Linked DNA regions of Homo sapiens. The protein of the gene in region 1 purifies or fractionates together with the protein of each later gene. This does not show direct contact. Each region holds a gene or a part of one and is shown in the gene's direction. Other genes may lie near its edges. The genes, in order: NSMAF, DSG4, NEK9, TCHH, PADI3, HEPHL1 and EPB41L2.

Region 1 (4,115 bases):
GTTGTGTTACTGAGCATCAGAAAATATTCTGAAGGTCTATAATGAGGTTTAGACAATCCTGGTACATAGTTGCTGTCATTATTTGAGGGTTAGTCCCTCCTATTGATCAGTACTATTTGAAATGCGTGCTTTCAAGGAACTCGAACCTAGTGGTTCACTGCATTATTTGTGTTCTGTCCCAAAGCATCCAGGATCCTGATGAGAAGGTAGCCATGCTTACGCAAATCTTGGAATTTGGGCAGACACCAAAACAACTATTTGTGACACCACATCCTCGAAGGATCACCCCAAAGTTTAAAAGTTTGTCCCAGACCTCCAGTTATAATGCTTCTATGGCAGATTCCCCAGGTAAATTTTGTAAAGAGAATAAACGTGAGCACCTTTTGTTTCTCTTCTGTGATGAAAATGTTTCTGAAGAGGAGATAAGACGTATACTGTTGTGCTACTTAGAGATGATTGTGTTCTCCTGCCTTATTGCAGTTCTCCTGAAAACAGATACCTGTTTTTGCTGATGTTGTTTGTTTTCAGCTATAGACTGTAAGGGAAATCAAATCGCTTTTATTTTCTGGCAATTGAATATGAGTGAAAGTTGGCCATATATGTTTTGATGTGGTTCTCTTTCTCTTCTGTGGTTTTGAAGCTGGTGTTTGATCCTTAGCTATTTGCCTTTTCATTCTTACAGTCCTAGCTGTCCAGTCTGCCTTCCCAGTCACTGTCAGCCCTGCTGTCTTCCAGAAGGGACTTTCTCTGGCCCTAATTATGCTCTTCTATACCCACATACAGATCTTTTTTTTTTTTTTTTTTGAGACGGAGTCTTGCTTTGTCCCCCACGCTGGAGTGCAGTGGCGCCATCTCGGCTCACTGCAAGCTCCGCCTCCCGGGTTCACGCCGCCGTTCTCCTGCCTCAGCCTCCTGAGTAGCTGGGACTACAGGCGCCCGCCACCACGCCCGGCTAATTTTTGTATTTTTAGTAGAGACAGGGTTTCACTGTGTTAGCCAGGATGGTCTCGATCTCCTGACCTCGTGATCCACCCTCCTCGGCCTCCCAAAGTGCTGGGATTACAGGCCTGAGCCACCGCGCTCGGCCCCACATACATCTTGAATTCAAAGTGCTCTCTCTTCTTCATTGGATTTCACTTATTTAACATTTGACAAACATTTACAGGGTATCTGTTCTGCGCTGGGCATGTGCTAGGCACTAAATTGAACTTGACCCAGTTCTCACATCTAATATTTGGAAAGGTAGGAAAGAACACTCACCTTTCTCCAGTTACCCAGGTTTTAGATTTTACCTAAGACAACTTCAAACCTACAGGCTTCCAGAAGGAGGTTGACACTCTGTGGAGCTTTGGGAGCAAAATCACTTTTTATCTCCTATCCTCCTGTCTGTTCCAAGGACATCCAGACATTTTAGGCATACATAGATGAGCATTCTCTCAAGCATGGAGAAATAGCTTCCTGGAGTTACATGACCCAGGGGTAGCTTCTTTAAGAGAGAATACTCTAGAGGGTTAAATCATGAAGATCACAGGATTATCTTGTGATGCTGTTTCAAACTGCACTCTGCTTAGTCACCAGGCTGTAACCACTGTCATGTGATTGTTTTAAGATGGTAATTGTTTCAGCCCTTCTTAAAGCAGAAGTAAAAGGATTACTCCTGCCAGAAGCCCTTGCGGTAATTGATTTCATCTCTGCTTTCCCCACCCCACACCAGAACAAAATTGTTGCATTCTTAGGCAACTGTCAGGTTTTTGAAACAATGTTGACAAGGAAATGATGACTCAGTCTTGTATTTCCCCAAATTCATAAGTTAGAGGCCGAGTGAAAACTTTGCAAACATTGTTAAAGTATAAAAAGATTCTAGTATTATTCAAAGATACTTTTTATCTTTCTCTATACAATTTTTTCCTTGACTAACGTGGAACCATCTAACAGGTACATTTCAAAGCAGTTATATTGTGACAGGGTGTTTCATTTCTTAGTTGTTTGATTTTAATAGAAAATATTGTTAATCTGATGCTGTTGTCTGTTGGTAACTTAGTTGACTTAGCAAAAATTTAATGTCGTCTCTCCAGGTGAAGAGTCTTTTGAAGACCTGACCGAAGAAAGCAAAACACTGGCCTGGAATAACATCACCAAACTGCAGTTACACGAGCACTATAAAATCCACAAAGAGTAAGAATATCTCTGCTTCTTCTCAGCAGCTGATAGTCCTGGTAAAAGTTAGGGTCTTGGCATGGGATTAAACTGTTTTAAGCTGAGTCAGAGGGAAAATTCCCTTTCAATGTTGTCTTTATTTTTAAAAATCTCCCCAAAATGTCTATAGTGATCTCCACCTGAGGTTGATGTAGTAGGGAAAGTTTGGCACGAAATGATTTGTGGTGGCTACCGTGCTGTCATTTCTGCAGTCTGTCACTTCACAGTACAAGATGTGGTCGGCAGAGAGCAGCCAGTTTTGTGCCTCTCAAATTGGAGTACACAGCTCCTTGAATCTTTGATGGGAGAAGTGTGATGTATACCCCACGAGTGTTGGATTTACACATAATGTAGGTGAAAAGGCACCTTTTAAAAAAATTAGCTCTCCCAGAGAACATTGCAAAGTTCACATGAATTTTAAAAATAATTATGCTTCTAAGAAATTGGGCTTGCTGTTGGACCCAGAGATGATATGTGTGTTCTCTGCCCTCTCTCATTAAGACCTTCATGTTCTCTGGTAGAAAGGCTCGAGAAGCACTGACCTAGCCTGTTCATCCTGCTACAGAGAGGAAACCCAGGTCCAGAGACTAGGCCCCACCTAGCTCCATGACGACAGACAGCCCCTCCGGCATACAGGTCATGGGTGGAGCTGGGCATACTGCTGTGCATTAGATGGATGGCTTCACATCACAGTCCAGCCTCCCGAAGAGAAACAAGGAGTTTTGGCTGATTCATGATGACAATGGCTGTCTTTTCTCAACTTCTCTAAATGGCACATAGGAAGGGACCTTGTAATCCAAGGTAGTGAAGACTGAATGATCCTTTAAGAGGACAGGCTGGAACCAATTTTCTCATCATTGAATAGTCACTGAGTAAATTAGCTTCAGTAATCAGCAAGTGAAGTGACTGTGAAGAAGAGTTTGTCCTTTTGGTGATGGTCAAACGAGGGGGAATAGAAGGAGAAGAGTTTTCCAATTGCCAGAAATTGTCAGGAATATGTAAAGCATTGCATGTGGAACACAGGGAAGCAAAGAGTGGGGATGTTTTCTAGCCACAGGCGTTGCCAGAACGTTAGAAGGTGCCAAGCAGTGATTTGGTAATGGCAGGTTTATGCTGGGACAGATCCGGCAGACATGCTGTGAAGAAAAAAATTAAGGAAACTTGGTAAAATTAAATCAAGGATATGAAACAAAGAGGGTATCCTAACACATGATGAGTAGTAATTTGTGAAACTTTGTTTTTGAGCAGAGCAGTTACTGGAATCACGGTCTCTCGCAATGGATCTTCAGTATTCACAACATCCCAAGGTCAGTGTTCCTCCCCGAAAGGCGGCTTAACCAAAATCCTAGAATGTCTGAGTTCTTTATTATTTAGCTCGTGGTCAAGGACTGCACTTGCATGTGCTGCCTCCACATAAAGTAAACTTAGAGCAGTTCCTTTGTGGTACATTACATAGAGTTTCATGGTAATTTGCCAAAAATAATAATGAAACATCTTTCTGTTGCTGATGAGGTTTCCCAGAGTTGAGGATAGAGGACAGAAACAGCCTCCTTTCCACACCCTTGCTGGGTCAGGCACTTCCTGCCTGCCCATGAGAGGTGCGCTGTCCACTTGTTGGGGTTGGCTGTGAGTAGCAAGTGCTGTATCAGAAATTGATGTGTGCCTGTCAGCACGTGGAAATGCAGATTTGCTGTTACGGTTTGCAGTTTTGTCATTCAGTGTATATTTCTTCGGGATATTTGATTTAGCTCAAAATCAAATTCATGTATTATTTAATATGCTTATACATTATCAAAATTATAAAAACCCTTGCAGTGTGTCATTGATATGACTTATAGCTGTAAAGCAGAAAGCATCCCTTACTATATACACCATTGTTCTCTCCCTGGTAGTCTGCATTATATATTATTCATTAAAGT
Region 2 (4,115 bases), on another chromosome or scaffold:
TCTAGGGCGAAGTCTGTGCAAATGTGGGAAGGCCACGTCCCACCACTGACTCCCTCTGTGTAATTAATTTACTTTTATTTGGTCAACAAGCCTGGAGATGTATCGGTGTAACTTGTATCTCTCTTTGTCAGCTTTTTAGCGCCTACGCCTTGCCGGGTGGTGGTGGCACCGCAGACGGCGGCGGCAGCGTTTTAGGCAGATGCGCGCTGCAGGCAACTCCAGCGCTGTTAAACCAACATCCTCCCTTTTCAGAAATCTACACCAACACCTATGCAGCCGGGGGCACGGTGGAAGGAGGTGTATCGGGAGTGGAGCTCAACACAGGTATGGGGACAGCCGTTGGCCTCATGGCCGCAGGGGCCGCAGGAGCCTCAGGGGCCGCAAGGAAGAGGAGCTCTACCATGGGAACCCTGCGGGACTACGCTGACGCAGACATCAACATGGCTTTCTTGGACAGCTACTTCTCGGAGGTAATGCCCTCACAGTCACACATAAAATCGTCTTGAGATTGAATAATAATAATAGTAAAATACTCACAATGGTAGTAGGCCTCTTCGGAAATATGCTGTTATTCTCAACCCTATCCCAAACCTGAATAAAAAGTATTTCACGTCTCCTTAAAACACAAAATGCTAATTTGCCACAGGATTTCATATTCAACTGCCATAGCGCATCTTAGTACCGTGAACAAGGCCACACCCCTCATCATTCTCCACTTCCCTTTTCCATTTTTCTATCTTTTGTTTCCTTGATTCCTCACCTTGTTTCCCACAGCAGTAGCAAAGCAGGAAAATGCTCATCAAGGGGAAAAAAGGTGCATTTATGACCTCTGTTTTTGATGTCCTTCATGTTCTCCCGGAGCCTCCAACAGAAAAGAGAAAATAAAAAGAATTGGGAACGAAAGGAGTTAAAACTCAGGAACGCAGCATCACCACAACTCGTGCTAGATTAAGACCTAGAAGATAGCTCTCCTATTCTCAGTCCAGTGACTTATCCACCAACTGACCTTCACTACGAAAAGGGGTCCAGCAATAGCACTGCTGGGTATATATCCAAAAGAAAGGAAATCAGTATATCAAAGAAATATATGCACCCCCATGTTTATTGCAGCACTAGTCACGTAGCCAATACATGGAATCAACCTGTGTCCATCAACTGATGATTGGACTTCTAAAATGTGATTCATATACCCAATGGAATATTATTCAGCCATAAAAAATGAAATTTTGTCATTTTGCAACAACATGGATGGAACTGGAGGACACTGTTAAGTGAAATATGCCAGGCACAGAAAGACTAATTTGACATGTTCTCACTCATCTGTGGAAGCTAAAAGGAAAAACCGAACTCATGGAGATAGAGAGTAGAATGATGGTTACTAGAGGCTGACAAGGGTAGTAGGGAGGGGAAACAGTGGGATGGTTAATAGGTGCAAAAATACTGTTAGAATGAAGAAGATCTAGTATTTGGTAGCACAACAGGATTGCTATAGTTAACAATAATTTATTACACATTTTAAAAGAACTAAAATAGAACTAGAATTTTATCTCATATTTCAGTCGGCCTGCTTTATTCTCCATCTGTTCATACATGAATTTCACCATGATTCTTTACCAAACAAATGCTGAAGATGTTGTTGCAATTGTAAACTATATCTTAAAATTGGTAGTTACAAATGCTATCACAGAATGTGCATGGATAGTATCAATTATTTTAATGAGTGATTGATACCATTATTCAGTTTATTCCGTAACAACTTAACTCAGAAGTCTCTCTGAGGGATTGCTGTTATTCTTCCTTATTTTAGGGAAAAAGAAATTTCTAATTCTGTATTTCCTTTTAATTTTAGAAAGCGTATGCTTATGCAGATGAAGATGAAGGTCGACCAGCCAATGACTGCTTGCTCATTTATGACCACGAGGGAGTCGGGTCTCCCGTAGGCTCTATTGGTTGTTGCAGTTGGATTGTGGATGACTTAGATGAAAGCTGCATGGAAACTTTAGATCCAAAATTTAGGACTCTTGCTGAGATCTGCTTAAACACAGAAATTGAACCATTTCCTTCACACCAGGCTTGTATACCAATCAGTACTGACCTCCCTTTGCTCGGACCTAATTACTTTGTTAATGAATCTTCAGGATTGACTCCCTCAGAAGTTGAATTCCAAGAAGAAATGGCAGCATCTGAACCCGTGGTCCATGGGGATATTATTGTGACTGAGACTTACGGTAATGCTGATCCATGTGTGCAACCCACTACAATTATTTTTGATCCTCAGCTTGCACCCAATGTTGTAGTAACCGAAGCAGTAATGGCACCTGTCTATGATATTCAAGGGAATATTTGTGTACCTGCTGAGTTAGCAGATTACAACAATGTAATCTATGCTGAGAGAGTACTGGCTAGTCCTGGTGTGCCTGACATGAGCAATAGTAGCACGACTGAGGGTTGTATGGGACCTGTGATGAGCGGCAATATTTTAGTAGGGCCAGAAATTCAAGTGATGCAAATGATGAGTCCAGACCTTCCCATAGGCCAAACCGTTGGCTCCACATCCCCCATGACATCTCGACACAGAGTAACACGATACAGTAACATACATTACACCCAACAGTAAGTGCTTTATGGTCAGTATTCTATGTGGAGACCTTGCACCTTGTAATCATCAATACATCCACCAAAAATATATAATGTACCATATATATTAATAGTCAACAAATACTCAGATATTCTAAGGTCAATGCCATTATTTGATTATACCATTTTGAGGGTGAATATGGCTAGGCACTTTAGATAAGCCTTTTTAAAATTCTTTCTGATTTTAAATAATGCGTCAAAAAATGTGCAGAAAATGTATTGCATCCCTTGATACTGTCTAACGAATAGCACATAACTCATATTGTGAATCCTATGGGTCTTGAGGCCTGTAGAACCAATCTTGTAAACCAAGATGCCTTGTTCTTGGAAGTTACAAAAGAAGCCCTGTCTACATCCACCAGCCATATTTTTCGTTAGGGAAATATTTATATTAAAATTTTTAATTGAAAAGTTGAATGAAATGTACATTCTGAAAGGAAATTGAAAAGGAACGTAGAGTATCTGTCAATATCTTTAGATATCTGAAGTCATTTGTCTCTTCAAAAGATTTTTCAATATTATGCGCTATTAAGCAATAGGAGATGCTTAATATAATAAGAAAAGAGTTTGCCAACTGAAAGCATGGCTGGAAATGGTTCATCAAAGAAAAATATATATTTTTATTGAACTTTATTGATTTATATGATTAACTGTAAATTAATCTAGAATAGCAAAAAAAAATGACAATCCTAAAGTAGAAAGAGTTATTGGGGAAATATTAGAGTTTTCCCCACTTACAGGGAATTTTTTCCCTACTGTTGCCAATTATGTCAGAAAAATACATGAAATATGGCTTAACCAATTTCATTGACCTGAATCGTAGAGCTTTCAATTGGCAACCAGATATTCTCCAAAAGCACTCTGTAGTTATTCATATATTCTACAATATTTACTTAGAAGCAACTAGGTGTTGGGTGCTAGTCTTGGCTCTGTGAATATACAGGTAAAGAAGACAGACATGGTTTCTGCCTTCATAGAGCTTCTATTCATTTCTAGACTTAAAATAAAACTCTGGGATATGGCTTTAAGTTCCTAACAACAATAATTAACCAACTACTTAAGTCCATTACCAAGTTGTGTTTCTCTTTGCAACACTACTGTTTATGTTGAATAAATAAAATGGAAACACATTGCTTACTTTTCGTAGGCATAAAGCTGACTTGAGAAAAAGAATCTCTAGCCAGGTAATTTTACTTAATTCTGTAAAATATGTATACAGTAGCAGCAATAATGTGACTGAGATAATGTAAATGAAATAAACTTATTTTCAAGGCTTAATCCTTTTGAAAGGAAATAATTGTAGTGTTTCTTGCCTATCTTTTGCTCCTTTATGAATAAAACTATTGTAGAATTTAAGTCATCTCAGATAACCTCTTACCTAGTTCTCTCATTTTCTGGACAATGAATCTAGAAATAGAGAGGTTAAATGACCACAACCAGCTAGTTGTGGTACAAAGCCTTGAACCCATTGTTCAGAT
Region 3 (4,115 bases), on another chromosome or scaffold:
GAGGTACTTTGCTAAAAGTATTGTGATGTTGTAGGATGCATACAGTTTATAAGAGGATTAAATCTGTGAAATGTATTAAACAGACACCTTTGCAATATAAAAACCTATTATTTCACTCATGTATCTTTGCTTTTCTTTTGGTAGAGAGATGGAGGAAAAAGTCACTCTGCTTAATGCACCTACAAAGAGACCAAGGTAATGTTCAAGAGACTCTTAAAAACTAATATATCCGAAATTACAACCAGGGGGTTCTTTCTTGAGTGTAGGCATTATTTGATCCGAGGATACTTTGGCATCCTTTCAGGAGCCAGCATCTGCTTAAATGTCAGACAGTCATTTCTAAGAAGAAAGCTATAATTTCACCCTCACACTAAAGTGGCCATCATTACCATGATGAATGTGGAAAAGTGTAGGTGTTATGGGTCAGACTGGAATCTGATCTGGCCAAGCTGTGATGAAGCCCTGAGGCAGGAATTGCAAAGTCTGCTGTGATAGAGCACATTGAAACAAGTTGTCGAGAAAGAACATACTTTCTCATACCATAATTGGCAGTTCTTCTCAGGGAACAGACTGGAAGCATTTTTCTTTGATATTGTTTTTAATGTTAAATGTTCCTTTGTTCTGGGGGTTGTTGGCAGGTCAAGCACTGTGACTGAAGCACCCATTGCTGTAGTAACATCACGAACCAGTGAAGTCTATGTTTGGGGTGGTGGAAAATCCACCCCCCAGAAACTGGATGTTATCAAGAGTGGCTGTAGTGCCCGGCAGGTCTGTGCAGGGAATACCCACTTTGCTGTGGTCACAGTGGAGAAGGAACTGTACACTTGGGTGGTAAGTGAACGCTAAGCATTTTGGAACAGTGCTGTAAGCCTAATTGTTTACTGGGCCCACGATGTCTAAGCATTTTATTAGTTGAACCTATACTAAGGGAGTGGCAACATGGGGTGATGGAATGGAAGCTCTTATAAGAGCAGGGATTTTGTCTGTTTAGTTCACTGATGTATGCCCAGGGCTGGTACATATTAGGTCACCTATAAATGTTTTTTGAATGAATGAATGAGAGAGGGAGAGAAAAATTGAAAGACTCAGGAGACTGGGGTTTCCCATTTACAGCTGGATGATTTCAGACAAGTCACTCAATTACTCTGTTATATTACCATGAGGTTCAGAGCAACTATTACCTGTGAAATAGCTTTGTAAACAAAGGAAGGACTATACCATGTCAGGAAACCCCTGAAGCCCACAGCAGTGATTGAAGATGGCTAGGTATATTTTGTGTAGAATTTGTTTGTTGCCCTCTAGATTCTCCCCTCTCACCTTCCTTAACAAATTGTCTGTGTTTGCTGTCTGTTTCCTTATCTCCCACTCTCTCTTCATTCACCTACAATGCAGCTTCCATCTCTGCCACTGCCACTCAATTGAAACTAGTCTTGACAAAATGACCCATAAATTGCTAAAATAAAACAGATGCTTTTTAGTCCTTACCTAGCTTGACCTCTCGGCAGCATTTGACATAGTTGACCACTCCCTCCTTCTTGAAGCTTTGTCTTTACTTGCCTTCTGTGATAGCATGTTCTCTTGGCTTTCCTCCTGTCTCTTGCTATGCGTTCTCAGGCTCATTTCAGGCTGCTGGAGAGAAATTAGTATCTTAAACATTTATTGGCTGGGCGTAGTGGCTCACAACTGAAGTCTCAGCACTTCGGGAGGCCAAGGCGAGTGGATTGTTTGAGGCCAGGAGTTTGAGACCAGCCTGGCAAACATGACAAAACCCCATCTCTACTAAAAATACAAAAGTTAGCTGAGAGTGGTGGCGCATGCCTGTGATTCCAGCTACTCAGGAGGCTGAGGCATGAGAATCACTTGAGCCTGGGAGGTGGAGATTGCAATGAACCAAGATTGCACCACTGCACTGCAGCCTGAGTGACAGAGCAAGACCTTGTCTCAAAAAAAAAAATATATATATATACTGTCACACACACACACACACACACACACACACACGCACACGCACACACATATATATATAAAATATGAGGACTTGTAGTATACTCATTTAATAGAATTATTTTTCTCTATAAAACTGTTGAAAAGGCCAGACATGGTGGCTTACACCTGTAATCTCAAAACTTTGGGAGGCCGAGGCGAGTGGATCACCTGAGGTCAGGAGTTCGAGACCAGCCTGGCCAACATGGCAAAACCCCATCTTTACTAAACATACAAAAAATTAGCCAGGCGTGGTGGCGGGCACCTGTAATCCCTGCTACTTGGGAGGCTGAGGCAGGAGAATCGCTTGAACCCAGGAGGCAGAGCTTGCAGTGAGCTGAGATCGAGCCACTGCGCTCCAGCCTGGGTGACAAGAGCGAAACTCTGTCTCAAAAAAAAAAAAAAAAGTTGAAAAGTCATCAAGGACTAGTCTCATTGCTGTATAGCAGCCTCTTTGATGTAGCCAGATTCTTTATAACTCTTCCATGTTTCAGGGAAACTGTGACCAAAATTTATGAAACTTCTAGTACAGATTTTCAAGAAGCTATATTCCTGTAGAAAGCAACAAAGTTAGACTATATTATAAAGAATTTTTTTCACCATCACCTGTAATTAAATATATAGTTTACCTTAGACTTGAAGGACAAAGATTAGATTAATGGATATTAATCTGGATACTTTTTAAGTTTTCTTTACCTGTTGGCAGGATCTGTATACTACTTGCTATTAAAATGTTTAATCCCTTTGCCCATTTTTTTCTAATTTCTAAATTTCTAGCTCTTTTTTTCTACTGTTTTTCTTCATATGAAGTTCCATTAAAGATCAGCTTTTGGCATGAAAAATTAAAACTTCATAAGACCTCTCAGCCGGGGATGGTGGTTCATGTCTACAATCCCAGCACTTTGGGAAGCCGAGGCAGGAGGATCACTTGAGCCCAGGAGTTCAAGACCAGCTTGGGCAACATAGCGAGAACCCATCTCTTTAAAATTTAAGTTTAATAAAATGTAATTAAAAAAAAAAGTCATAAGACCTCTTTATTTCACAGAACATGCAAGGAGGCACTAAACTCCATGGTCAGCTGGGCCATGGAGACAAAGCCTCCTATCGACAGCCAAAGCATGTGGAAAAGTTGCAAGGCAAAGCTATCCGTCAGGTGTCATGTGGTGATGATTTCACTGTCTGTGTGACTGGTAAGCCATCAGCAGAAAGTGTCTTAAGTGCATTTAATGTGGGGGTATTTTGCTTAATGCTGTGCAATCTTAGTTGGGATTTTAAAACAAAAGACAGTATACAAAGAACCAGAGGACCTTGAGCAAATATACTCATTAATAATAACATACCAAATTTGCTATAGTATTAGGGGGTGGTGAGCAAGGAGAAGACAGGTGGGTAACAGAGAAGAGGTGGGATCAGGAGAAAATGTGTGTCGTGGTTGGCAGGAAAAATAATCTTACCACCTCATCAGGCTATGAATAACACAAAATTAGGATCAAGACCTAAGTTTAGTTTTGGTCTTGTCATTACTTAGTTAATGATTCCTTGGGACTTATTTTTTTATCTATATAACAAAGATGGCCCCATTAAAATTTTAAGTCCTTTTAATGTGATAATGCTACCACTTTTTAAATTGTTTAATATAGTAGTAGTAGTACACATGACTCTCTGACATAGAACTCTAGACTTGCACAGTCTGTCCTTTTAATTTCTTGGATATAATCAATTCATGTGAGATCATTTGCTGGGGTAGTCCTCATTCCAGCCCTGCCCAACTTTCTGATTAGATAAAATAAGTCAGTCCTTTGATGGATTCTGTTTTCCTTTCTTTTGCAGATGAGGGTCAGCTCTATGCCTTCGGATCAGATTATTATGGCTGCATGGGGGTGGACAAAGTTGCTGGCCCTGAAGTGCTAGAACCCATGCAGCTGAACTTCTTCCTCAGCAATCCAGTGGAGCAGGTCTCCTGTGGAGATAATCATGTGGTGGTTCTGACACGAAACAAGGAAGTCTATTCTTGGGGCTGTGGCGAATATGGTAGGGGTAGCCTTGTCTCTGTCCACTTCTTCACAGGTATACAACCTGACTTCAAAGTTGTATGCATCTAAACCCATCATGCAGCCCCTAAATGAGAAGTG
Region 4 (3,929 bases), on another chromosome or scaffold:
ATCGCAGGCAAGAAGAAGACCAAAGGAGATTCGAGCCCCGGGACAGACAACTGGAAGAAGAACCTGGGCAACGACGCAGGCAGAAGAGGCAGGAACAGGAGAGGGAGCTAGCTGAGGGAGAGGAGCAAAGTGAGAAACAAGAGCGACTTGAACAGCGCGACAGGCAGCGCCGCGACGAGGAGCTGTGGCGGCAAAGGCAAGAATGGCAAGAACGGGAAGAGCGCCGTGCAGAGGAAGAGCAGCTGCAGAGTTGCAAAGGTCACGAAACTGAGGAGTTTCCAGACGAAGAGCAACTGCGAAGGCGGGAGCTGCTGGAGCTGAGGAGGAAGGGCCGCGAGGAGAAACAGCAGCAAAGGCGAGAGCGGCAAGACAGAGTGTTCCAGGAGGAAGAAGAGAAAGAGTGGAGGAAGCGCGAGACAGTGCTCCGGAAGGAAGAAGAGAAGTTGCAGGAAGAGGAGCCGCAGCGGCAAAGAGAGCTCCAGGAGGAAGAAGAGCAGCTACGGAAGCTGGAGCGGCAAGAGCTGAGGAGGGAGCGCCAGGAGGAAGAGCAGCAGCAGCAAAGGCTGAGGCGCGAGCAGCAACTAAGGCGCAAGCAGGAGGAGGAGAGGCGCGAGCAGCAGGAGGAGAGGCGCGAGCAGCAGGAGAGGCGCGAGCAGCAGGAGGAGAGGCGCGAGCAGCAGCTGAGGCGCGAGCAGGAGGAGAGGCGCGAGCAGCAGCTGAGGCGCGAGCAGGAGGAGGAGAGGCGCGAGCAGCAGCTGAGGCGCGAGCAGGAGGAGGAGAGGCGCGAGCAGCAGCTGAGGCGCGAGCAGCAGCTGAGGCGCGAGCAGCAGCTGAGGCGCGAGCAGCAGCTGAGGCGCGAGCAGCAGCTGAGGCGCGAGCAGCAGCTGAGGCGCGAGCAGCAGCTGAGGCGCGAGCAGCAGCTGAGGCGCGAGCAGCAGCTGAGGCGCGAGCAGGAGGAGGAGAGGCACGAGCAGAAGCACGAGCAGGAGAGGCGCGAGCAGCGGCTGAAGCGCGAGCAGGAGGAGAGGCGCGATTGGCTGAAGCGCGAGGAGGAGACGGAGAGGCACGAGCAGGAGAGGCGCAAGCAGCAGCTGAAGCGCGACCAGGAGGAGGAGAGGCGCGAACGTTGGCTGAAGCTCGAGGAGGAGGAGAGGCGCGAGCAGCAGGAGAGGCGCGAGCAGCAACTAAGGCGGGAGCAAGAGGAGAGGCGCGAGCAGCGGCTGAAGCGCCAGGAGGAGGAAGAGAGGCTCCAGCAGCGGTTGAGGAGCGAGCAACAACTAAGACGCGAGCAGGAGGAGAGGCGCGAGCAGCTGCTGAAGCGCGAGGAGGAGAAGAGGCTCGAGCAGGAGAGGCGAGAGCAGCGGCTGAAGCGCGAGCAGGAGGAGAGGCGCGATCAGCTGCTGAAGCGCGAGGAGGAGAGGCGCCAGCAGCGGCTGAAGCGCGAGCAGGAAGAGAGGCTCGAGCAGCGACTGAAGCGCGAGGAGGTGGAGAGACTCGAGCAGGAGGAGAGGCGCGAGCAGCGGCTGAAGCGCGAGGAGCCGGAGGAAGAGAGGCGCCAGCAGCTGCTGAAGAGCGAGGAGCAGGAGGAGAGGCGCCAGCAGCAACTAAGGCGCGAGCAGCAGGAAAGGCGCGAGCAGCGGCTGAAGCGCGAGGAGGAGGAAGAGAGGCTCGAGCAGCGGCTGAAGCGCGAGCATGAGGAAGAGAGGCGCGAGCAGGAGCTAGCTGAGGAGGAGCAGGAACAGGCCCGGGAGCGGATTAAGAGCCGCATCCCGAAGTGGCAGTGGCAGCTAGAAAGCGAGGCCGACGCACGGCAAAGCAAAGTCTACTCGAGGCCCCGCAAGCAGGAAGGGCAGAGGCGCCGCCAAGAGCAGGAGGAAAAGAGGCGGCGCCGGGAGAGTGAGCTGCAATGGCAGGAGGAGGAACGGGCTCACCGGCAGCAGCAGGAAGAGGAGCAGCGCCGGGACTTCACATGGCAGTGGCAGGCGGAGGAAAAGAGCGAGAGGGGCCGTCAGAGGCTGTCGGCCAGGCCCCCATTGCGGGAGCAGCGGGAGAGGCAGCTGAGGGCCGAGGAGCGCCAGCAGCGGGAACAACGGTTTCTCCCGGAGGAGGAGGAGAAGGAGCAGCGGCGCCGCCAGCGACGCGAGAGGGAGAAAGAGCTGCAGTTCCTGGAGGAAGAGGAGCAGCTCCAGCGGCGGGAGCGTGCCCAACAGCTCCAGGAGGAGGAGGACGGCCTCCAGGAGGATCAGGAGAGGAGGCGAAGCCAGGAGCAGCGCCGCGACCAAAAATGGAGGTGGCAACTAGAAGAAGAAAGGAAGAGACGCCGCCACACGCTGTACGCCAAGCCAGCCCTACAAGAGCAGCTGAGGAAGGAACAGCAGCTGCTGCAGGAGGAGGAGGAGGAGCTACAGAGAGAGGAGCGCGAGAAGAGAAGGCGCCAAGAACAGGAGAGACAATACCGCGAGGAAGAGCAGCTGCAGCAGGAGGAAGAGCAGCTGCTGAGAGAGGAACGGGAGAAAAGAAGACGCCAGGAGCGGGAAAGGCAATATCGGAAGGATAAGAAGCTGCAGCAGAAGGAAGAGCAGCTGCTGGGAGAGGAACCGGAGAAGAGAAGGCGCCAGGAGCGGGAGAAAAAATACCGCGAGGAAGAGGAGTTGCAGCAGGAGGAAGAGCAGCTGCTGAGAGAGGAACGGGAGAAGAGAAGGCGCCAGGAGTGGGAGAGGCAGTACCGCAAAAAAGACGAGCTGCAGCAGGAAGAAGAGCAGCTGCTGAGAGAGGAACGGGAGAAAAGAAGACTCCAGGAGCGGGAGAGGCAATATCGGGAGGAAGAGGAGCTGCAGCAGGAGGAAGAGCAGCTGCTGGGAGAGGAACGGGAGACGAGAAGGCGCCAGGAGCTGGAGAGGCAATATCGGAAGGAAGAGGAGCTGCAGCAGGAGGAAGAGCAGCTGCTGAGAGAGGAACCGGAGAAGAGAAGGCGCCAGGAGCGGGAGAGGCAATGTCGGGAGGAAGAGGAGCTGCAGCAGGAGGAAGAGCAGCTGCTGAGAGAGGAACGGGAGAAGAGAAGGCGCCAGGAGCTGGAGAGGCAATATCGGGAGGAAGAGGAGGTGCAGCAGGAGGAAGAGCAGCTGCTGAGAGAGGAACCGGAGAAGAGAAGGCGCCAGGAGCTGGAGAGGCAATACCGCGAGGAAGAGGAGCTGCAGCAGGAGGAAGAGCAGCTGCTGAGAGAGGAACAGGAGAAAAGGCGCCAGGAGCGGGAGAGGCAGTATCGGGAGGAGGAAGAGCTTCAGCGCCAGAAAAGGAAGCAGCGATACCGGGATGAGGATCAGCGCAGTGATCTGAAATGGCAGTGGGAACCAGAAAAAGAAAATGCAGTTCGTGATAACAAGGTTTACTGCAAAGGCAGAGAGAATGAACAGTTCCGGCAGTTGGAAGATTCCCAGCTGCGCGACAGACAATCCCAGCAAGATCTGCAGCACCTGCTGGGTGAACAGCAAGAGCGAGATCGTGAGCAAGAGAGGAGGCGCTGGCAGCAGCGCGACAGGCATTTCCCAGAGGAAGAACAGCTGGAGCGAGAAGAGCAAAAGGAAGCCAAAAGGCGCGACAGGAAGTCCCAAGAGGAAAAGCAGTTGCTGAGAGAGGAAAGAGAAGAGAAGAGACGCCGTCAAGAGACAGACAGAAAATTCCGCGAGGAGGAACAGCTGCTCCAGGAAAGGGAGGAACAGCCGCTGCGCCGCCAAGAGCGTGACAGAAAATTCCGCGAAGAGGAACTGCGCCATCAGGAACAAGGGAGAAAATTCCTCGAGGAGGAACAGCGGCTGCGCCGCCAGGAACGGGAGAGAAAATTCCTTAAGGAGGAACAGCAGCTGCGCTGCCAGGAGCGCGAGCAACAGCTGCGTCAGGACCGCGACAGAAAATTCCGCGAGGAGGAACAG
Region 5 (4,115 bases), on another chromosome or scaffold:
GAAACCAGGCATGGCTGGGGATCTTCTTTCACCAGGAGAAAAATCATCGCCAGGAATTATCAGGCATGGAGGTACCCAGCCCTGAGCTAGGCCTTGGTTTGTGGGATCAAGACCTTCTGGACTCATAAACTAGGTCAGGAGTGGGCAAACTTTTTCCGTGAAAAGTCACATAGCAAGTATTTTAGGCTTTGTGGGACATATGGTCTCAATTCTGCCACTATAGTGTGAAAGCAGCCACAGTTAATACAGAAATGGATGGATGTGACTGTGTGCTAATAAAACTTTATTTATACAAACAGGCAGTAGGCCAGATTTGGCCCACAGTTCATAATGTGCTGATCCTGACCTAGGCGAGAAGAGAAACCAAATATGAAACTGTTGAAGAACTTGGGACTGAATTATGTTGGAACTTGGTGCCCTGGGAGTTAAGAGGAGAAGGTCGAGGTGGGCTGGGTGGGTGAGGAAGGCTTCCTGGAGGGACGTACCCTTGAGCTGAGCTCTGAAGGGGTGCAGGAGGGAGGACGTTCCAGGTGCAGGGAATGGCAGGAGCAAAACCAAGGAGGGTTTAATGGAGGAATGAGCACAGAGTGAGGCGTGTGGTCCTATAATCAGGTTGCCTATTGAGAAAGAGGATGTTGGCTGAAGGCCCATCACAGATAGCCATGAAAGACAGCTCTGTGCTTTGGACTGGATGGTGTGGGCAACAGAGAGCCATTGCCATTGACATGTCTTGAGAAGGAGGTGCTTCGAGAACGTGGACCTAGCCTCACAGGGTTGGGTGGTTACAGGCCAGGCTCGGGTTCCTGGGTAGGGAGGCACAGGTCTCATCTGAGCCCTCATCACTGGCTATGTTTTGTCATTGGCAGCGGCAGTGGGTCTGGGGGCCCAGTGGGTATGGCGGCATCTTGCTGGTGAACTGTGACCGTGATGATCCGAGCTGTGATGTCCAGGACAATTGTGACCAGCACGTGCACTGCCTGCAAGGTGAGGCCGGGGCAGCCTGAGTCCCTGGGTGTCCAGGGTCACTGCTCAGTTACCCCATGGGAGTTCCAACCCACAGGCGAGACTCTGAGGCCAGAGTCCAGGGGAGAGCGCCAGCCTCCAGACACACCTCGATGCTCCTCAAAACCCATCTCAGGCTGGCAGCTGCCCCTCCCTAGTGTCTCTAGGGCCAGTGAGCACTCACATGCCAGGGCAGAAGCTCTGGAAATGAGCCACCTCGCCATTCTCTTCCTCCAGGGGAGCAGAGGATGCTAGCATTATTTGAGCACCTACTGTGTGCCAGGCCTTTTCCCCAAATTCTCATTGAATCATCCAAGTGGGACAATATCATCACCCCAATTTAGAGATGAGGATGCTGAGACTCAGAAGCCAGGAGACTCCCTGAAGACTGTGTCTGATCTGGGGCCTCCCCTCTCAACCCCAAATCTGGGCCTCCTCCTTCAGCACCTCTGGCCTACATTTCTGTGACTCCCCCACCTCTTGCTAAGTCCATCTGTCCTGAATTCCAGCCCCATGGAGAATGAGCTGCAATATTCCAGGGTATGCTAGGTGCTGTCCACGGGAGATGCCCACGGTTGCCTTCTGAAGTGGGCACCATTGGACATGGGGATGCTGGGGCTCCAGAAGGGAGGGGCTTGTCCAGGGTCACAGGGAGTGATGCTGGGATGGAGGCCAGAACCCTTACCTGCACGACGCCCACATGGCCTTACCCTCCTTGCTTCTCTGGAGCACCTGTTGTGTGTCAGACACCAGCTGGCTATGCCACACTTCATGTTTCTCTGGGCAATTGAGGAAACATGAGTCCAGGAGAGCATAGATGTCTTCATGGTTTGTTCTTGATGGCTTCCAGGGTTTTCACAAAGCTAGGGCTGGGAGACCCAGGTCTTGATACCCACTGACCTGGGGAGGGAGCTGGGCAGCAGAGGAAGGGGCCAGGGGCCAGGACTCCCTTGAGTCACTACCACTCTGTCTGGCTTCACAGACCTGGAAGACATGTCTGTCATGGTCCTGCGGACGCAGGGCCCTGCAGCCCTCTTTGATGACCACAAACTTGTCCTCCATACCTCCAGCTATGATGCCAAACGGGCACAGGTCTTCCACATCTGCGGTGAGTTTGTGCCACTGCCCCTTGCCATCTGTGCCCTGTTGCCAGGTTGCCTACCAGGGAACCTCCTGTTCCTGCCTTGGGCCATGGGCAGGTCCTGCTTACACTCCGGGAGATGCCCTGGTGGGTGGCGGGTCGCAGTAAGAACAGTCAGAAGTGGGGGCTTTGGAACTGATGAACTGGTGCCCCCAGCACAACACCTGGCCTGAGGTCATTTTATTTGATGAATGACCTTTTCAAATACATTTTAAGCATGTGTAGAAATTCTTATCAAAAATTTCAAACATACACAAAAAGCAGTGCTGTGAATCCCCATGTGCCTGTCACTCAGATTAAACAATTATCACTGTTTTGTCTGTCTCGCTGAAGTTTTGTAAAACCAACCCCAAACACCATAGATTTCACCCAATTAATTCAGTTTGTATTCCCCCCAAATATAGATGGCTGTTGTTTTACATAGTCTGCCAAAATCACAAGAAATACAAGTAAAAATCTAAATGCCTTTGAGAAACTAAAAATGTATACAAGTAATAAGATGCTTTTTTTTTTTTTTTTTTTTTTTTTTTGAGACAGAGTCTCGCTCTGTTGCTCAGGCTGGAGTACAGTGGCGTGACCTCGGGTCACTGCAACCTCCACCTCCTGGGTTCTGGCGATTCTCCTGCCTCAGCCTCCCAAGTAGCTGTGACTGCAGGCATGTGCCACCACACCCAGCTAATTTTTTGTATTTTTAGTAGAGACAGGGTTTCATTGTCTTAGCCAGGATGGTCTCAATCTCCTGACCTTGTGATCTGCCCGCCTCGGCCTCCCAAAGTGCTGGGATTATAGGCGTGAGCCACCGTGCCTGGCCGCTTATTTTTTAAATAATCAGACAATATGGAAGTATAGAAAATGAAACCTGAGAGTTCTCTACCCGTCTCTAAATCTGACTTTTTTTTTTTTTTTTTGAGTCAAGGTCTTGCTCTGTTGCCCGGGCTGGAGTGCAGTGGCATGATCTCAGCTCACTGCAGCCTCCACCTTTCAGGCTCAAGCAATCCTTCCACCTTAGCCTCACGAGTAGCTGGGACTACAGGCATGTACCACCACACCCTGCTAATTTTTTTTTTTTTGTAAAGACAGGGTTTCACCATGCTGCCCAGGCTGGTCGTGAACTCCTGGGCTCAAGCAATCCACCCGCTTTGGCCTCTCAAAGTACTAGGATTATAGGCGTGAGACGCCGCACCTGGCCTGAATCTGATTGTCACTGTTAACGAGTTGGGATGTGTGCTTCCCAACTTTATTCTACATGTTCTCCAGCGTGTGTCCATATGCTGCTTTCCAACCGGCTTCTTTCATTAAGTAATAATCCCACACACCTTTTCTGGTATTTATTGAGCTCTACTTCATTCTTTTCCACTGCTGTATAATATTCCTAAGCATAGAGGTGCTGTGACTTACACAGTTCTCTGAACATCATAGTGGTTTGCAGTGTTTTGATTTTATAACAATGCAGGTTGCTTGAGGTCAGGGGCTTTGTTCAAGTCCAGAACCGTGCCCCATGGGTGCACTGTAGTTGCACAGTAAATATTTGATGAATTAATGAATATCGAGCACTCTTGTACAGAAATATTATGTGACTTTGTACCTATTATTGTTTGTTTGTTGTTGTTGTTTTGTTTTTTGTTGGTTTTGGTTTTTTTTGAGATGGATTCTCGCTCCATGCCCAGGCTGGAGTGCAGTGGTGTGATCTTGGCTCACTGCAACCTCCGCCTCCTGGGTTCAAGCAATCCTCCTGCCTAAGCCTCCTGAGTAGCTGGGATTATAGGTGTGCACCACCACCGCCCGGCTAATTTTTGTATTTTTAGTAGAGACAGGGTTTCACTATGTTAGCCAGGCTGGTCTTGAACTCCTAACTTCAGGTGATCCACCGCCTTCGGTCTCCCAAAGTGCTGTGATTACAGACATGAGCCACCGTGCCCAGCCTGTAGATGTATTTTTGTAGGAAAGATACCTAGCAGTGGAATTGCTGGGC
Region 6 (4,115 bases), on another chromosome or scaffold:
CCCACCAATTTTTTTGCTATTATAAACAGCACTGATGACTATTATTTATAGATGTTTGCACTTTTGTCTGAACATTTTCTTAGAAAAACTCCTAGATTTAGAATTTCTGGGTCAAAGAGTATGATTTTTTTAAAAAAGCTATGGACATACATTGCCACATTCTCTTTTGGAAATTGTTATTCTTCTACACGAAGTGTATGAGTATGGCTCTTTCCCCATTCATCTACCAACACTGAGAATTATTAGTCTTTCTAATCTTTACTAATCTGATCAATGAACAATAGTATCATTTGAAAACTGTTAAGGTTTGAGTACTATTTGAGTACTGTTAAGGTTGAACCTCTTTTTCATTTGTTTATTGGCCAATATTATTTATTTTGTGAATAAACTATTTCTGTTCCTTGCTCATTTTCTATTGGAGATTTACTTGTTTTCATCTTTATCTGTAAAAGTGATTTACGTATTAATCTTTTGTCATATGTGTCACAAATATCCCTCCTGTTGCCATTTATCCTTTTTAAAAAAACTTTCTTTATGGTCCAATTTTCTGTACAGAAGCCTAAATGTTCAAGAGCCAAATCTATCAGTCTTTTCCTATATGATTCCTTTTGTGATCATTTATGCCTCAGCTCGTGGTTTTCCTCTGTTCTGCAGCTGGTATGCTGGGGCAATACAATGTTGATAACTGCAAAAGTGATATTTTCTACCCCAAGATGAAGGGTCAACAGAGGCGCTACTTTATAGCAGCTGAAAAAATTCTTTGGGATTATGCTCCTCAAGGCTATAACAAATTCAGTGGTCTTCCTCTAAACGCCTCTGGCAGGTAAGCACCCTTTGTTGGTGTTTCTAAGCCTCTCGTCAGAGAAGCATGTGTTAGGCTTTCTCTGTGATCTAATTTGTATTCCAACCACTGCTCTGATGAGCTTATACTGCATAGATGGCATAATGTAGCTGCTTAAGGTGTTCTTAATACTGCAAAAGCACTGCTGAGAACTGGTAGAATATTTTTTGTTTTGTGACTTGACGGCTGAATCAAAACACTAGATCATTCACTCATTGATCAAACATTTCTTGAGTAGGCACTATGTGCAAACTATAGTGCAAAGTGCCATTAGAAATACTAAGCTGACAAAGAATAGAGTAAGGCCTTTACACATATGGAGCAGACAGTCTTGAAGAGGGAATGACAGGAGATGGAGATGACCTGGCCTAAGAGGGTTACCCTTTTTGGTTCAAGGATATCCTGATTTAAGTTGTGTCCCCTTTATGTCCTACAAATATTCTTTTCCTTTCTATTCAGTAAAATGCCATTTTTCTTTCAAAGCCTTACTCTAATGTCACCTCTGAAGTGAAACCTTTGACTCTTGATATAAATGAATTATGTTCTCTCTGCGCTCCCATAGAATATACTATTTAAAAAATTAATCTAGCAATTTATTAGGTGGATCTGGACTCCTGTGACTTGTTAGTATATAATCATATGCAAAGTTGTCTGTGAAGATACTAAAAAATGTACAGTGTGATATCAAGAATCCTTTTTTATATTTAAGGGAATGTTTTAAAAATTCTCTTTGTGATCAATAAAACATCATTTGTTTCTTTAATTGTACATTTTATTCATTCATTCATTCATTCATTCATACTTTCACTCATTATTCTACCAAACGGATGCACTTGAACCCTGTCTAAAGAATTTGTGTGAACCATATGTGAAAGACTCTGATATCAACATTCTCTATTGACTAGTATTTCTCCATAAACAGAATAATGAGAATTAGCATTCAAAATTGTCTTAGGAGCCTTCTAGAATTCTGAAGTGCCTTCTGAAATAGGAAAGATTAAACTATATTCAATCAATGTTTAATGTGATATATGAAAGCACAAAGTGCAAGATGACATGAGGGATGCAAGGATATCTAAAGCAATAAAATGCAGAGGAAGAAGCTGGGTTCACAAGAGTAGAGAAGTAACTGCAAGTTACAAATAAAAGTGAGGTGAGTTGTCCTGGTAGTGAGTTATCTGGATGCTCAGAGAGAGCTAAGCTGGCCAGGGAACACATTATAGAGGAAGTGAGACTTAAGCAAAATCTTAAGGAGTGATAGAATTTATTTAACTGAATAGGGAAGAGAGGAATTTTAGATGGAGGGGTTGATGCAAAGCACCTGTGGCATGGGAGGAATGAACAGATGAGACTGCAGTAACAATTTGCATAGAAGAATGGGCACTGGCATGGAGAAATAGAGAATTGGGGTAAACGGGATATCAATTGCAGAGGTCCTTTAATCTTTTTGAACATTATTTGATTGGCAATTGGAAGCAATTGAAGATTTTGGAGCAGGTAAATAGCAATAACAATTGCCATTTTGGAGATTAATGTATTAAGTGAAAAAATAAGCACAGTCTTGGCCATTGAAAGTAATTTGTAATCACGGTCTTGGCCATTATGACCATTATGGCTTACTTTTGCACCAATCTAATAGTTGTGTGTCTATGCTGAGAAGAAAAGTGAATGAGCCAGTATCAGATAGAGGATGCAGTTCAGAGGTTCATATAATGGGCTCCACCCAGTGTGATTAGGGCATGAACTGGGGTCGTGGTAGTGGGAAGAAAGGAAAAGAAAAGATGCACAAGGAGGATAGAAAAGGAAGAGTGCCAAAAAATTTTACAAAGTAAGGATGAATGAGTTAAGGGAATGAAGCAGAAAAAGAAAATCTACGTGGCTGCAAGAGTGATGGCACCATTGATGGAAATAAGATAGTATAGAGACAGTATTAGTCAGAATTTATATTATCATATTCACGACTTGGAAATTTTGCATTTCATGCATATGGTTTATATGGTAGCCCTCCAATAATTACACTATTTGATTAACTAGACACTCCATTCCTTAATAATGCCAGAAATCAAAGAGCTTACTAGATGCAGAGAATATTCATATTAATATCAGCAAGAGAGAGAGGGATGCTTATTCTGCAGAGAAACCAGTTAGCTCTTTGTTACTTTGTAGAACACCATTCTGGAACTCTACTATTGGTAAATAAGGAGTTTACTTGTGACTGGTTCAGTGCTGGACCTCTTGGGAAGAAAGTACAATGGCTGAGAGAAATGAGCTTGAGTATCACCCAGCCTCTGAAGACTTTTAGGGCTGGTTAACTATTCCTGGGAACTCTGTCAAGGCCTGTGCTGTCTTTTCTGGGGACATGGGTGGGCGAGTGGACTAAAAGTGATAGAATGAAGTTCTATAATTAAAGTATTTGGTGGATATGTTGAGAAGTGTCCTCAATCACATTCCTATGTCTTTTCAGTGACTCTGATCTCTACTTCACACAAGGGGACAACAGAATAGGAGGAAAATACTGGAAGGTTCGGTATACTGAATTTGTTGATGCAACTTTTACTAAAAGAAAGAGACTCTCTGCTGAAGAAGCCCATCTTGGAATTCTTGGTACAGTAAAACCATCCCCCATGCATTGAACCCAGGGAGATGTTTTAGCTGGGCATGTACATCTGCACAGAATGACTCTTCTGCTTTACTTCTTTCTGTCTCTTTTCATTCTCTTCTCTCTCTTCTTCTGGATATTTTTTCAGGCCCAGTCATCAAGGCAGAGGTGGGTGATACCCTGTTAGTGACCTTTGCCAACAAAGCCGACAAGGTCTATAGCATTTTACCCCATGGTGTGATCTATGACAAGGCATCTGATGCAGCCCCAAACCTAGATGGTAAGTCTCACTCTGGGCTTAGGGAGGAAACAGGACGGGTGAGCAAAGCACTTAGAAATAAACAGTCCTGGTTCAAATCCTGGTCCTTTCCATTACCTGCCCTGAGAGCTTGGGCAATCACTTAAACTTTCTGAACCTGATTCTCTCCTGTCAAATGCAGATAACAATACTCACCTCACAGGGCTTTGGAAAGGGATGGAGAGAATTTAGGACAAGGTCTGGCCCATGGTAGGTTCTTAGGAAATGTTCATTTCTTTCTTTTTTTCTCAGCAATATAGTAAATCTCAAAAGTAAGCTACTTTCACAGTCACTTCTTTTTCTCTAAGATGGAGAGCTTTTCAGTTGCAGGTTGCATAGGATTCTGCAGGTGAAGGCTGAAGGGAAAATTTGATTTC
Region 7 (4,115 bases), on another chromosome or scaffold:
TTTTCACCCTATTGCACTTTTCATCATTTATTCTCCCCTATCTCCCATTGTACTTCTTTCCATTCAATTGAATTCATTTAGTTGACCCCCATTTACCTAACTGTCAAGGTTAAACTGAATTCTGATATAATCCTGGCCACTCATATTCTTACCTGTGAACTTAATGAATGTGCATTTATTTCCTTACAAATTTCTTTGATGGAATATTGATTAGAAGGAATCAGTAACATGTCCACTCTATTTGATGCTGGTTAGACTGCCACATATGCCATTGTGACCTTGGGCAAATTATTTCTCAAAGCCTCGTTTGCTGTAGTAAGGGGTTAAAAATCATACCTACCTCAGAGTTACATGAGGATTAAATGAACTAATGCTTATAAAATGCTTCATAGAGTGCCTGGCATCTGTAAAAATTGTTAGGTTAAGAAGAGACCTAGTGGGTTGGTTACTGGTGAATATGTGGTAAGCAGATTTTTTGCAGTGGTCAGGAATAATTATCTGTGTGGAAGTACAGTCTTTGAAATGAAACAGTAATTTCCTATGGTGATCACAAGTTAAAACCACTTTTTAACAATTTCAGTCCAGTATCTATAATGTTTGAGCTTTTAGAAACTCTTGTCTTAACTTCATTCTTTTTGTTAATTTACAAAAGAGCATATATATGGGAAAACAGTTGGGATCTAGTTTCAACAGCACAGGGATAATGTAGTCTTTTTTGTTATGTTGCCAGAGGTAACTGATTATAAATGTAAAATTGTGTGCATATGTTCTAACTTCTTCTCTCTATAACCACAGTAAACTTGTTGAAAAAAGCCTATTAGTGAGTAGAATTTTTGTTGACAATGTTTAAACCTCTGCATATGGCATTAAAATGTAACCTTTATAAATCTTTGTGTGAAATATACCTGCACACATATTTTCCAGCAACATCGTGTTTTAACTTGTTAGTTGCCAACATTAAGAAATCAGGTTTCATATAAATATCCTTATTTTAGGCTAGAAAAATTAGATGATGGTGTAGCACTTGGTCCACTGGGTCCACTGGGTCTATTGTGTCTATTGCTTCTGGTGCTGTCACGCATCAGCTGCTTTGCTTAACCTGTCCCTGACGCACGCATTTTATGCTCAGTTCTAGCTTTGTTCTAGGTTCCATTGTAAGTAATCCTGTAAGGCCTGAAGCTTTGATAATCAATAACCATGTAAAAAAAAAATAAGGAAGCTAATGGTTTTGCAGCACAGACTACACACCAGGTGCTATAATTGGTACTTTACATATGTTAATAACCCTGCTTCTTTTTTGCAGCACCATCTTGGAGTAGCTGGTGTGCTTATTTTACGGATGAGAAACTGAGGCTTAAAAATTGAATAAATGGCTCAAGGGCACCCAGCTTGTGTATGGCTAAAACCCTTGTTTTTTCTGTGAGTTCCAGTTATTGCTTTTAATTGTTCGATGTTATTACTCAGTAGAAGTTGAAGTTTTTTGCAATTTGTTGGCATCTGCAGTATCTAACTTTTATAAAAGACAGGATTGCTTTCCTGACTGGGTTCGCCCATGTAGTTTTTTGTGTAAAGGTATGATTATGAAGCAGACCTGAGTACTACTTTTAGTTGTGTGATTCTTGAATCATGCTGGAACAGGGAGTACCCTTCATCTTGTTTTTCAGACTAGAGACATTTAAAGTAATGTTTCTAGCCTGATTTTTCAATATTAGAAAAATATACCAGAGGATAAAACACATCAGAATAAAATGTGGCTCTCCCCCGACCTTTAGTTTCTGCCTTTCCTGTGGTTTTGCACTTTTTGCTTTCATTTAAAGTGCAAATGGCATTCTCCAGGGTGCTTTATATGATTTAGAAAGTCAGGTAGTACTGCAGGGATTATGAAAAAAAGCAGCAGACCAGTGCCCTAGCTCCCTTCTTGACAGATTTCTGCTCCCCTGAGGCAACTACTTGTTGGAGGCCAAAAGAATGAGGGTCATGATCAACTCAGTATACCACTGGAGGTTATATGAGTAAGCAGCAAACTGTTTTTCATAAATGCAGAATGTTGGCAAACTGACAGACTGCGTATGCCACCCAGAAGGAATGCTGAAGGCAGTCATGCCCAAAGCACAGTGTTTCTTGTGATTAGGTACATCTGAAGCCTGTTAGTAACAATATGAACCTGTGATCAATTAAGCAGCTGACCAATCCTTACCTCCTTCTCCCTGCTCTTGTTACCCAATAAATATGAAGGGCTGTGGAAGCTCAGGGGCTGCCTTTGCTCACTAGAAGCAGGGAGCTCTTTTCTTCTTCCCCTGGCCCTTCCTTTAAAACAGTTCCTTTTGTTTTTTTGTTATTTCCATGTTTGTCCCTTCCTTCAGTCTCGTAATGACGGTCTCAAGTAGTAACAGTAGTAACTGTTGTAGTGAAGGTCTCAAGTAGTAACTGTGGCAATGTGCCACAAGTGGCGCCCGAACAGGGACTATCAGTGACAAACAGAGACCTGAAGAGACCTGAAGGGACCTGAGGAGGCCTACAGGGACACATAGAGATAAGTAGGGATAAATAGAGATAGAGACAGATAGGGAAAGATAGGGACTTGCACCAACTTGGAGGAACTAACAGGGACCGTAGAGACAGACAGGGACAGACAGGGATAGATAAAGACTAGCAAATACTAGCAGAGACTAGCAAAGACTAGCAGAGACCAGCAGAAGCTAGCAGAAACTTGCAGGGACAGACAGGGACAGATAGAGACAGGGTCCTATAGGGACTTGAATGAGGAAGTTCTGCTGGAACAGAAAAAACTAAAACCAACCAGACAAATGAGAAACCCCGTTACAAGTCTGCTTGACAACATAAGGAGATGAACAAACTGTGTGGGTGCCCTCAAGGTGTGTGCGACCATGGAATGGAAGACTGGAGAGATCCATGGATTCTAGCTACAGGCCTTGTTCCCCTAATACGAGCCATGAGCCAGTTGAATCTGAATGCGAAGATGGAATGAGGACCGACCGGAGTCACACTGACATCAACCCTCATGACATGGGGATAGATCAAGAAAACCACACAGGAAGCTGAGACACTGTTAGTGTCAGGGTCAGGCAAAGACCCCTGACTCCATGTTTGTGGCCATGCTGGCCATGGTTTCCTGTGCCTCCCGTTGTAAGATCAGCTGGACCACCAACTGGCAATTAAGGGCTGCACAGCCTGTAGTTGCCTTTCTCAATTAATTAAAAAACAAAAAGGGAGAAACGTTGGAGGTCGAAAGAATGAGGGTTATGATCAACTCAGTATACCACTGGAGGCTATATGAGTAAGCAACAAAATGTTTCTCATAAATGTAGAATGTTGGCAAACTGACAAACTGTGTATGCCACCCAGAAGGAATGCTGAAGGCAGTCACGCCCCAAGTGCAGTGTTTCTTGTGATTAGGTACATCTGAAGCCTGTTAGTAACAATATGAACCTGCGATCAGTTAAGCAGCTGACCAGTTGCTACCTCCTCCTCCCTGTTCTTGTTACCCAATAAATACGAAGGGCTGTGGAGCTCAGGGGGGCTGCCTTTGCTGACTAGAAGCAGGGAGCTTTTCTTCCCCTGGCCTTTCCTTTAAAACAGTTTCTTTTTTTTTTTTTTTTTTTTTTTTTATCATTTCCATGTTCGTCCCTTCGTCCCGTCTCCTAATGAGGGTCTCAAGTAGTAACAGTAGTAACTGTTGTAGTGATGGTCTCAAGTAGTAACCGTGACAGTCTGCCACAACTACTTTCACTAGTTTTGGTTTTATTTTCTGGTGTTTTGTCTCTAAATAACATGATTTTCTTGTTTCTTGATTTTTTTTTTAAAGTTTCAGAATATTTTTATGTTTTATTATTTGTTAAAATTTACTTGCTGGGCACGGTGATTCATGCCTGTAATCCCAGCACTTTGGGAGGCCGAGGCGGGCAGATCACCTGAGGTCAGGAGTTTGAGACCAGCCTAGCCAACATGGTGAAACCCCATCTCTACTAAAAATACAAAATTAGCCAGGCGTGGTGGTGCATGCCTGTAATCCCAGCTGCTCAGGAGGCGGAGACAAGGAGAATCGCTTGAACCCAGGAGGTGGAAGTTTCAGTGAGCCAAGATCGCACCATAGC

The links.
Region 2: the proteins of NSMAF (region 1) and DSG4 purify together in Homo sapiens (affinity purification with mass spectrometry; 2 studies listed by BioGRID and IntAct, with this or other methods). This does not show direct contact.
Region 3: the proteins of NSMAF (region 1) and NEK9 purify together in Homo sapiens (affinity purification with mass spectrometry; one large-scale study listed by BioGRID and IntAct). This does not show direct contact.
Region 4: the proteins of NSMAF (region 1) and TCHH purify together in Homo sapiens (affinity purification with mass spectrometry; 2 studies listed by BioGRID and IntAct, with this or other methods). This does not show direct contact.
Region 5: the proteins of NSMAF (region 1) and PADI3 purify together in Homo sapiens (affinity purification with mass spectrometry; one large-scale study listed by BioGRID and IntAct). This does not show direct contact.
Region 6: the proteins of NSMAF (region 1) and HEPHL1 purify together in Homo sapiens (affinity purification with mass spectrometry; 2 studies listed by BioGRID and IntAct, with this or other methods). This does not show direct contact.
Region 7: the proteins of NSMAF (region 1) and EPB41L2 purify together in Homo sapiens (affinity purification with mass spectrometry; one large-scale study listed by BioGRID and IntAct). This does not show direct contact.

What each region holds. Positions count from the first base shown.
Region 1 is NC_000008.11:58,593,620-58,597,734, reverse strand, and holds part of NSMAF (protein FAN), read left to right. Parts: intron 1-184; coding exon 185-348; intron 349-1,659; exon of another isoform or gene 1,660-1,675; intron 1,676-1,878; exon of another isoform or gene 1,879-1,935; intron 1,936-2,075; coding exon 2,076-2,175; intron 2,176-2,880; exon of another isoform or gene 2,881-2,965; coding exon of another isoform or gene 2,966-2,997; intron 2,998-3,444; coding exon 3,445-3,503; intron 3,504-4,115. UniProt on the Homo sapiens protein: Couples the p55 TNF-receptor (TNF-R55 / TNFR1) to neutral sphingomyelinase (N-SMASE). Specifically binds to the N-smase activation domain of TNF-R55. May regulate ceramide production by N-SMASE.
Region 2 is NC_000018.10:31,410,979-31,415,093, forward strand, and holds the end of DSG4 (desmoglein-4 isoform 2 preproprotein), read left to right. Parts: intron 1-131; coding exon of another isoform or gene 132-252; coding exon 253-470; intron 471-1,849; coding exon 1,850-2,617; 3' UTR 2,618-3,931; downstream 3,932-4,115.
Region 3 is NC_000014.9:75,106,401-75,110,515, reverse strand, and holds part of NEK9 (serine/threonine-protein kinase Nek9), read left to right. Parts: intron 1-144; coding exon 145-195; intron 196-638; coding exon 639-831; intron 832-3,028; coding exon 3,029-3,173; intron 3,174-3,813; coding exon 3,814-4,014; coding exon of another isoform or gene 4,015-4,050; intron 4,051-4,115.
Region 4 is NC_000001.11:152,108,954-152,112,882, reverse strand, and holds part of TCHH (trichohyalin), read left to right. Parts: coding exon 1-3,929. UniProt on the Homo sapiens protein: Intermediate filament-associated protein that associates in regular arrays with keratin intermediate filaments (KIF) of the inner root sheath cells of the hair follicle and the granular layer of the epidermis.
Region 5 is NC_000001.11:17,265,853-17,269,967, forward strand, and holds part of PADI3 (protein-arginine deiminase type-3), read left to right. Parts: intron 1-214; exon of another isoform or gene 215-444; intron 445-866; coding exon 867-984; intron 985-1,984; coding exon 1,985-2,110; intron 2,111-4,115. UniProt on the Homo sapiens protein: Catalyzes the deimination of arginine residues of proteins.
Region 6 is NC_000011.10:94,069,720-94,073,834, forward strand, and holds part of HEPHL1 (ferroxidase HEPHL1 precursor), read left to right. Parts: intron 1-654; coding exon 655-823; intron 824-3,305; coding exon 3,306-3,445; intron 3,446-3,588; coding exon 3,589-3,720; intron 3,721-4,115. UniProt on the Homo sapiens protein: Is a copper-binding glycoprotein with ferroxidase activity. It oxidizes Fe(2+) to Fe(3+) without releasing radical oxygen species. May be involved in the regulation of intracellular iron content.
Region 7 is NC_000006.12:131,052,949-131,057,063, reverse strand, and holds part of EPB41L2 (band 4.1-like protein 2), read left to right. Parts: intron 1-4,115. UniProt on the Homo sapiens protein: Required for dynein-dynactin complex and NUMA1 recruitment at the mitotic cell cortex during anaphase.